Linked DNA regions of Homo sapiens. The protein of the gene in region 2 interacts with the protein of the main gene of each other region in a biochemical or structural test. Each region holds a gene or a part of one and is shown on either strand. Other genes may lie near its edges.

What was found.
Region 1: the proteins of SNTG2 (region 2) and ABCC4 interact in a test that uses a peptide from one of them, tested with the Homo sapiens proteins (one large-scale study listed by IntAct).
Region 3: the proteins of SNTG2 (region 2) and XKR7 interact in a test that uses a peptide from one of them, tested with the Homo sapiens proteins (one large-scale study listed by IntAct).

What each region holds. Positions count from the first base shown.
Region 1 is NC_000013.11:95,022,376-95,025,588, forward strand, and holds part of ABCC4 (ATP-binding cassette sub-family C member 4), read right to left. Parts: intron 1-3,213. UniProt on the Homo sapiens protein: ATP-dependent transporter of the ATP-binding cassette (ABC) family that actively extrudes physiological compounds and xenobiotics from cells.
Region 2 is NC_000002.12:1,363,307-1,366,961, reverse strand, and holds part of SNTG2 (gamma-2-syntrophin), read right to left. Parts: intron 1-3,655. UniProt on the Homo sapiens protein: Adapter protein that binds to and probably organizes the subcellular localization of a variety of proteins. May link various receptors to the actin cytoskeleton and the dystrophin glycoprotein complex.
Region 3 is NC_000020.11:31,971,043-31,974,697, reverse strand, and holds part of XKR7 (XK-related protein 7), read right to left. Parts: intron 1-3,655.

The DNA.
Region 1 (3,213 bases), on a different chromosome or scaffold from region 2:
CTAGAAGAGATACAGGTTTTCTGATAAACGTATAATCAGAACATAAAGGAAATGAAATGCTGTCAAGTTTCTCTGTTCCACAATCATCAGTTTTTAGTAGCTGTATCGTATCTTGGTTCCTTGACAGATGCGCATAACAAAATGAAATAATGTCAAGACTTGTGAGCTCTTATCTCAAAACGTGTTTGGGTGAAAAAGGACTTCAAATGTAATTTTTTTTCCCCAAAGAAGAATGTGAAAAGTTTTGTTTGAATCTTTAAAACAGAAAATGTAGCAACTATCTGAGGCTGACACGTGTCACCTGGGTCTCTTAGTCATACGATTCTGGATCTATTTTATAAAACCTTGCTCTGAATATATTGGTGGGTGCTGTCAACAAAGTTATCACTGGAGATAATGGGATTCACGTACAAAAAAGAAAGTGCTGAGACACCTGCCTACATATTAAGTGTACTTTCTTTTTCTCTCACTTCTTGCACACTTGTTACTCCAGAAATATCATTACATATAACACACAATGTACTAAAATGTCACTTAAGGAGAAAATAAATTGTCCAATAATGCTGGAATGCCACCAGAAGAAATCTGAGGCTATTTCCATTATAATGCAAGTGTTCAAAAGTAAGACTTTTCAGGGGATAATTTCATATCATCTCCCTCTCCCACTTTTTTAAGCTAGCCATATTTTGTGTGGTTATAGATTTATGTACTCCAAAAAGGCTATTCTGTAGTGAAACTAAAAACAGCCAAAAGAACAAATAGACATTCACATCACTTTCTACTGCTTGATAGCCTTCCCCAAATAGGCTGCTTCCTTCTGTGTAACCCTCTTGATGTATTTTTTTAAATATATATAAAGAAAGTGTTGTTATTAGCAACTTTAAACCCAAATGGTCTTAGCTTCATGGTCTGAAATACTTAGTCAAAAACAAACTTCCTGTGTATATATTCTTTGATTTGACCTTTCTTTTTCTCTTCTGCTACCAGGTTTTATAACACACTATGGGTAACAGCACAGGTGAGATGAAACATCTTTTTTACAGTGCAGGTGATGAAGGGAGTTGAGATTACTGAACTACTTTTAGCAAAGCCCTCATGTTGTAAGCTATGTCTGGGATAGACAGGTCCAGTCTCAGCTCTCTCCTGGATTCACTGCTGATTCTGGAAAAATTACCTAACCACTCTCTCTACCAGCTGCCTCATCTGTAACATGAGATAACAATAGCTTACGTCACAGGAACTGATTAATGGCTACAAACTACAGGTTGAAAACCTGCTGCATTAGTGTTGGGTGTCATGATGAATGCTGCTCAGAGAAGTGGCCCCTAAGCACACAGAACGTGGAGGTATCGCCCAGCTCGAAGGATGAAGACAAAGCATTTAGGAATCCCTCTGGTGCATCTTTTATCTTTACAGAATCCCAAAGCTGTGGCTGAGACAATTTCAACTGAATGAATATGGTAACCTGGGAGGCAGAAAGGTAGAACTGAAAGATCATAGAAGATGGAGTATGAACACTTTTGAACTGGTGGCTTTGAAAACTTACTCAGGCTGGGCGTGGTGGCTCACACCTGTAATCTCAGCAGTTTGGGAGGCCAAGGCAGGTGGATCACTTGAGGTCAGGAGTTTGAGACCAGCCTGGCCAACATGGTGAAACCCCATCTCTACGAAAAATACAAAAATTAGCCAGGCATGGTGGTGCACGCTTGTAGTCCCAGCTACTCGGGAGGCTGAGGCAGGAGAATCACTTGAACCCAGGAGGCAGAGATTGCAGTGAGCCGAGACTGCAACACTACACTCCAGCCTGGGTGACAGAGTGAGAGACTGTCTCAAAAAAAAAAAAAAAAAAAAAAGTTACTCAGCTTCTTGTACTTTAGCATTTTCATGTGTCAAAAGGGGATAATAACAGCAGTTCAGAAGGACTGTGAAGCTTAAGGGAGACAATGCCATAAGCGTTCACGTTTGCGGCAAGAAGAGTATCAGGTCAGTGAGTATGGGAAACCTTGTCCCTCTTTTCCTTCTTCTCTTGAGTTTGCTCCATTATAGTTCCTCTAATGTAGGTTGAAACTAAGTTCATATTTAAACTCTAACTCATCAGTAAAGCCACCGTAACAGAGCTAGATTTTACTAAAATCAACAGAGCAATACAAGCTCCCGCACGTGGACAAAGGAGAGCAACTGGGCTTTGATTGACATTGCATTCCTAAGATACCATCTGATGTGTTGAATTCAGGCTCAAGACCCTGTCAGTTCATTTTTACTGATGTGTATGGCCCTAATTCAATCACAGTAACTCTCAAGGCCTCAAGTTCATCATTTTTAAAGCCAGTCTAATTTTGGTGTACATAATTGGCATGCATATTGTCAAAGAGTAATGGAGACTTAGAAAGGACTTCTGCTTTTAATATAATGGAGTAATGAATTTCCTCTCCTTTTCCTTTCAGAAACCACTCTGAACATCAAAGATATTCATTAATAAAAAATAAGCTAAATCTTTGTGAAATCAGGAGAGCCTGAATGGTAAAATATCATGAAGGGCTGCCATATGCAACTGGAACCAATGGGGCTGTGGCAAGGCTGAGAAGATGTCTATGAAGAGCAAGCCTCAACAATCATAGGAATTCTCCAGTTAATTGGAGGAGCGCTAAGGTATGTCAATAAAGAATCAATTAGAAACATCTTTGACTGACCTATGTACATTGGTGAGGTCCTGACAGAAGACAGATTGCAATTGCCCAATTCTGTAAGCTAAGGAGGAAGAAAGGCAAAACATGCACTCTCAATTTCACATACACACACACACCCACACACACCCACACCACACACCCCCACACCCCCCACACACCCCCACACACACCCATACACACACACCCACACACACACACACCCCCACACCCCCACACACACCCCCACACACACCCACATACGCCCACCCCCCACACACACCCACACCCACACACCCATACACACACCCACACCCCCACACACACCCACACCCCACACACACCCTCCCACCCCCACACACATACCCCCACCACACACCCATACACACCCACATCCCCTGACACCCACACACACACCCACACACCCACACACCCATACACATACACACTCACATCCCTCCCTGCATCCCCCCCACCACACACGCAGCCTCTCTGGGTCATAAAGTACTTCTACATTAAGCACAGAAAATTCCCTTTAGCCAGAAACAAG
Region 2 (3,655 bases):
TGTGATGTGGATCCCGTCGCAGCAGACCCCTGTGCTGTGTGAGTTGGCAGAACTAGCCATTGTGTCTCAGGCCGCCGTGCCTTTTGTATGGGTGCGTGTGGGCTTCATGCCAAGGCCGCCCTTGGGAGGAACAGTGCCTGCTGTGTGGGTGCATGTGGGCTTCATGCCAAGGCCACGCTTGGGAGGAACAGCGCCTGCTGTGTGGGTGCGTGTGGGCTTCATGCCAAGGCCACGCTTGGGAGGAACAGCGCCTGCTGTGTGGCGCAGAATAGGCAGTGTGCACAGCACGGCGGGAAGCGAGGAGGGGCCTTGTTCACCCACCCTGTCCCCATGGCTACGGGAGAGCAGGAAAGGGTGCCCCAGGGAGAGTTTCCTAGAGAGACGGTTATACCCCTACCCCCTCCCAATAAAAAAACTGAAACAAACTCCTGGATCCTTACCTCCGCATGTTACAGACACTAAATGTCCTGTAAAAGCAAAAATGACCCACAAAAGGTTCATCTTCTCTCCACAAACTGCCCCACATAAAGTCCCTGTGTCAAATCAACAGAAAAGTCCACAGTGAACCCCAAAGCTGACACAGAAGTTAAAGAAACTGTTTTTAGAAGTTATTCAGTTACTGGGGAAAAATCATCTTCCTGTTTTTGATGGTAAAATACGAATCTTGCCGTCCTGCCACCCCCATTCTATTGGTAGAAAAGAAGGTCTAAGTGCATTCTTCTAATGTTGTCTTTCTTCTTTGTTTGCATAACAAAATTCAATAAAATGAAGAAAATAAAATTTATTTTGAGGTGACTGCTAATTGATTGACATCCTATTTTCTAAATCTCACCAAAATTCTAGCATATTCTAAACTGCTGAGATGACACCAGAAAGAAAGATAAATCATTTTCAAGAAGAAGAGCAACGCTAAGGCCTGTCAGTTCCACAGACATGCTCCTTTAAGCTCTCGAAAGGCAGGATCTTGGTCATTTTCATTCCATGGCAGAATGAGGGGGTGGAGAATGGGGCCCCAGGCAGGATTGGAGGTCACACATCACCGGGTAAAGCCCTCCCTCCCCAATAACATCCATCTCAGCTTTTCGGAGCTGCTTTTCTTTATAACTCAAAGACGTGACATCTCAAAAATGACTTCAAACTTCCCTGACAGCATGAAGTCCCCTCGGCCTCTCCCTGGTCCTCTCTGCATGCCTTTCTTTTAGAAACTGCTTCTCTCTTGCAATAGGTACAGGACCCAGCTGGACCAGCCAGAGCCCAGTGGCAGCTTGGTACAGATGACAGGGAGAGGGAGGCCAAGATGCCTACATTGGTGTGACCAGCTGTGAGAAGTGAATACCTGAAGCTTGTTCTAATACCACTAATGCCAAGTGGAGAGCCAGCGAGCCAGCCTGCCGGAAGAGGACTTCAACACAGAGGAACACCCCATGCAGGGATACACAAAGAACACTGGGGGACATTGGGTACCAACATGCTGGGAGCTGCCCCCAACCTCCTAGTGACTGCAACCAAAGGCTTCATCTTTCCTTTATTCCAATTTGAATTAAGTTCCTTCCTATGCATGTGAATGACTCTTAACATTGACAGCTACAACACTAATTATTTTGATCATTTCAAATTGTGATGAGCAAAATGTTCAAGATGTTGAGGTGTATTCTCCTGCCAAAGCTTCATAGTCTTTAGGTAGTTTCATAAAGCGTCATTACACTTGGTAACCAGCATCCCTCACTCTGGTCATGAGTGGAACCCAGGGCCTGCCCAGCCCTTGTGTTAAACTTTAATTCAAGCTGGATTCGCCAATCATACCCAAAGCGTGAGACTGTACTCAAAATCTTTTATTCATTTTGACTTATCCCTGTTAGAGGAAAAAAAAAAAACCAAGTAGCTTTCTAGAAGAAACACAAGGTTCTTGCAAACTTAGCACATATTGTAATTCAATGTATGTATGTGTTTCCAAATAGCAATTACTGAGCTTTAAAGGGACTTTTGGAGAAAAAGAGCCATAATGACCATATCATTCATGCTTCAGGGTTTTGGGTTAATTTTATTTTTTTTGAGACGGAATCTCACTCTGTCGCCCAGGCTGGAGTGCAGTGGCACAACCTCCACTCACTGCAAGCTCCGCCTCCTGGGTTCACGCCATTCTCCTGCCTCAGCCTCCTGAGTAGCTGGGACTATAGGTGCCTGTGACCACACCCAGCTAATTTTTTTTTTTTTTTTTTTTTTTGGTATTTTTAGTAGAGATGGTGTTTCACCATGTTAGCCAGGATGGTCTCAACCTCCTGACCTCGTGATCCGCCCATCTCGGCCTCCCAAGTAGCTGGGACTACAGGCGCCCACCACCATGCCTGGCTAATTTTTTTTTGTATTTTTAGTGGAGACAGGGTTTCATGTGTTAGCCAGGATGGTCTCGATTTCCTGACCTCGTGATCTGCCAGCACCGGCCTCCCAAAGTGCTGGGATTACAGGCGTGAGCCACCGCGCCCGGCCAGGGTTTTGGTTTTATACATAGAAACTGAAAATTGCTTTACAAGTTCCCAAGATGTATCCAATAATAGCACAATGCACAGAAATAAGAAGCCAAACAGCTACCAGTAATAATGCACATATTCAAAACAACATCAATAGTTTTTGGTACCATAAGTTGAAGTTACACTGCATAATCTTTGAAAGTACTAGCAATGGCTGGGTATGGTGGATCACGCCTGTAATCCCAGCACTTTGGGAGGCCGAGGTAGATGGATCACCTGAAGTTAGGAGTTTGACACCAGCCTGGCCAACATGGTGAAATGCTGTCCCTACCAAAAAAAAAAAAAAATACTAAAAATTAACTGGGCATGGTGGCAGGTGCCTGTAATCACAGCTACTTGGGAGGCTGAGGCACAAGAATCACTTGAACCCGGGAGGCGGAAGTTGCAGTGAGCCGAGATTGTGCCATTGCACTCCAGCCTGGGCAACAAGAGTGAAACTCTGTCTCAAAAAAAAAGAAAATAAAAGAAATTACTAGCTAGCAGTGAAATCGGTCACACCACTAAATTCCACACTAAAACTCAATGAGTAGTACTGAAAGCCAGGAATGAAATTAAAGCTTATGAAACAATACTCAATCCATTATGTCATGATCCAGATACTGAATAAACAAGCATCCTGTGGGCATTTCACTGAACATCTTCAATTCAGCCAAAAGCTGAGTCATGATATCTCTGGTCTGGTTAATTTTCTAACCAAGTATTACCAGCAAGGCTATCTTGAATTATGAATTTTTAACTAGAGCTGATTGAAATCACATTTTGACATTTTGTTTGAACAAAATACTTGTGTTGAGTTCTAAGCTGGGGACACCCTGTATGGATCCCTCGCTGCACTCCTCACCTGTGTTCACATGTCGGTCATGGGCTGATGTGTTTCCACCTGCAGAGGAAAGGGCACCTGCTGGCTCTCTGTGCAGGAAACAGTGTGGAATGAACAGTCCAATATGTTGGGTTAGGGAGTGTCAGCCTAATACAATGACAGAGAGAGGCTCTCCCAAAGTTTATTTGGGACTATGTAGGCAATTGCAAGCTGGGACATATGTGCTATAAGAGATTATAGGGATATCCAAAGAGGCTGGGATTCAGGAAAGCTTAAAGGCAAAGTGAGGAGGTTACAGAAGTTGTTT
Region 3 (3,655 bases), on a different chromosome or scaffold from region 2:
ACAGGGCTATAAAACACAGTTTGAAAATGATGGAATCCAACCCCTGACCTGTTTTACAAATAACAATGTCTAATTATCATTGTTGAGAACTTCCTATGTTCCAGGCACTGTGCTGAACACTAAACATTATTTAATTTTCTACTACCTCAAGCACCATGCGATAGGTGCTATTATTAGAGTGTCCATTTAGCAGATGAGAAAATCAAGGCACAGACAAGTCATGCCACTTGCCCCAAATCACAGAAAGTGGCAGGTGCAGGATATGGCTGATTCCAGAGAGTGGATGCTGAACCATTAACTCTGGCCCCAGTGGAGAGACTGAGGACCAAAGAAGGAAAGAGGTCGCATTAGCTCAGCCTGAAGCAGACCCCCATCCCTGTTGCTACAGTTTGATCCAGTCTCCATTGTCTCTCTCCTGCATCTTTGTAGCAGCCTCCTCATGCATCTCCAGGCTTACTCTGCCTCCCTCCAGTCTATTCTCTCTCTTTTTTATGCTTTTTCTCTTGAGATGGAGTCTTGCTCTGTCACCCAGGCTGGAGTGCAGTGGCTCACTCTCGGCTCACTGCAACCTCCACCTGCCAGGTTCAAGCGATTCTCCTGCCTCCGCCTCCCGAGTAGCTGGGATTACAGGTGCGCACCACCATGCCCAGCTAATTTTTGTATTTTTAGTAGAGACCGGCTTTCACCATGTTGGCCAGGATGGTCTCGATCTCTTGACCTCGTGATCCGCCTGCCTCGGCCTCCCAAAGTGCTGGGATTACAAGCGTGAGCCACTGTGCCCGGCCCCTCCAGTCTATTCCCCACCCAGCAGCCAGAGTGGACATTGCAAAACACAAGTCAAGATCATGTTCCTTCTCTGGCCAAATTATCCTGGGCTCCCCGTGTCATGAAGAGTAAAAGCCCTAGTCCTTGCCATGGCCTCTGAGGCCCTGCATGACCTCGCCCCTGCCAATCTGTCCACCAGCATCTCCAAACATGCTCCCCTCACTCTATTTCTGCCACACAGGCCTTCTCCTTGCCCTTCCCTTTTCCTTTGCCTGCAAAACCCTCCCCAAGACCTCTACACAGCTTGTCCTCACCTCGTGCAGCCCTTTGCCCACATGCCACCTCCTTGGAGAGGTCCACCCTGACCACCCTATCTCAAAGAGCCACACCTCTCCCTGGCACTCCAGTAGCTCCCTGCCCTGTTTCATTTTTTTCCCCATAGCACTTATCACGATCTGGCCCAGGTATTATATATCCCATATAATATATATCATAGTTTATTTTCTTATTGGTTCCTTCATTAGGCTATTGAGCTCCAAGAGGGCAAGGACTTTGTCTTGTTCACCACTCTATTCCCAGCACTTAGAACAGTGCCTGGTATACAGCAGGTGCTTAATAAATGTCTGCTGAATGAATGACTGCAGATTAAATGAATGACTGCCATGTCATTATGGCTTCAAGGGACTTCAGGACCCCCTTGCTGTCCTGCCATGTGCTCCGTGAACAAAGCTTTGTTCCACAGGGAGCAAAGCCCAAGCTAATGCACTAATCATTGCCAGCAGTTTCTGAGCATTTAACGATGGAATGAGCCCTTTGCTGAACCCTTACACATTATCTCATTAAACCTTGAAACAACCTAAGAGGCGGGTGGGTACAATTTTGGTCCCTAGTTTACAACGGATGAGAGATTATTTGCCTTGTCAAGGTCACATATAAGAAGTAGTAAAGTCTGGATTTAAACTGAGGACACTTGAATCTAGAGTCCGTGCTCTCAACCCTCTCAACCGTTATGCCAAGAATGTAGTTTCCCAGAGGGGAAATCCAGAGCCTGACATTTCCTTCCAATAGGTCACTAACTCATTCCAGAACTTCTCTGTCATGCAGGGCTTCTTAGGTGACATAGAGTGCAGTGTCTGGGCCTATGCATAGAGAGGGCATTAGAGGGAGGGCCCCTAAATCCCAATTGCCTAATTTTCTCCCCATTTTGGGGTTCCCAGATCCCGAAAGCCTGGCAGGAATCCCATGTCAGATCGTCTCCCACTAATTGGCTTAGCAAACCATGCTTATCTGGGTGAAGCTGGGGCCCACTGAGCTCAAGATTAGGAAAAGCAGGATTCATGGCTTACTGCTCTGCTGCCTACAGGGTCAGAGGGGACAGGGTTAGGACTTTAATTAGCTTAAGAACCCTGGGCAGTTTAACAGCTCAGAGAGTTTAAAGGGAAGGGAGGGATGAAGTTGCAGGTTGGTGTCCAGGCCACAGCCAGCTTCGTGCCCCGCCAGAGGATCTGTTTGCTGTTCCCTCAGAGTTCAATCTCTCTGTGCACAAAGATATTGTTCTGGCATGTCCCAAAGTAGCCAGTGTGTGGTGTAAAAGATAGAGCTAGGTTTGGGACTGATCACCTTTCCTCACTTCCTCAGTGGGTGACTTTTGGACAAGGTTCCTTATCTGATAAATGGGTATATCAATAGTCACCAGGGGGGAGGGTTTCAGAGTAACATGAGATCACATGCCTGAAACACTCACACAGGGCCTGTGGGGACACGGTAGGTGTGCAGTGTCTGTGTATGCTTTCTCCTCCTCTCTCTCTTCAGAGCTTCATTTTATGTTTAAATTAGTAATAAAATCTTCTGTGTGAAAAGACCTTATCAATTTGAAGAGCTAAACCAGAGGTTACAAAGAAGACAGGCTAATAAATATGTTTCCTTTGGTTGACACTATTTTTAAACATTTTAATTAGTAGTTAAATTTTGGAGAGTTCACGGAAAAATCCCAATTTCCCATTTCTCTTGAGAAATCAAGACTGGGTCCACGATTTCTCATGGCATGATCAGCTGGAGCTTCCCTTTTCCTCGGACACTACTTGCCCCTGAATGTCCTCTTGTCTGACACCCCTTGTATCTTATGGTCTTATGGTCTGTTACCTGCCTGGGTCCTCAAAGCATTTGAATTTTTAATTCAGGATTTTACAAGTCTAAGAGGTTGAAAAATATCTTCATGATTATAATTATTTTATTCAGAATTGAGGAAATGGGATCAGGAGGTGAGTGACTGCCTAGCCTCCCAGGTGTGATTCTGGAGGACTCAATCACACATCTCCCTCTTCATTACCCCAGGCCCCACCACTCAGAACATCTGTGGGAACATCTCACGTGGTAAGCAAATGTGCTGGGCCAACATTGCTTAATTTCTAGGAATGCCAGCCCCTGCAGCTTCTCTATACCTTCTCTGGGTTTTCCCTCCATTTATCCAGGCCCTTAGCCATTTTAGAATCCAAAGATTTTGGGGGCAAGGGCCCAGAGGCTTTTGCTTTGGCAATAGACCCAGAGTCAGAATTTCAGGAATGGGAAACTCTTAAGGTCATCACATTGAATCTCATTTCACACACAGGGAAACCGAGACCCAAAGATGGAAAGAGCCTTGCCCAAGGTCACCCAGCAAACTATAGTTACAAACTAGGATAAAGATGTCAGCCTCCTGACCAGACCACCCCCGAATCCAGCCTTTTCCCCACAATACACACTGTTCCCGTCCTCACCCACATAGTTCAACTCCCTGCCCCTCTTTTCACATTCTTATCTCAGTGCAACAGAAGCCCTGACTTTCTATCATACTGGAATCTTGGAATCTCAGATTCATACTTCTTTAAGCTTGAGGGACACTTTAGTGGCA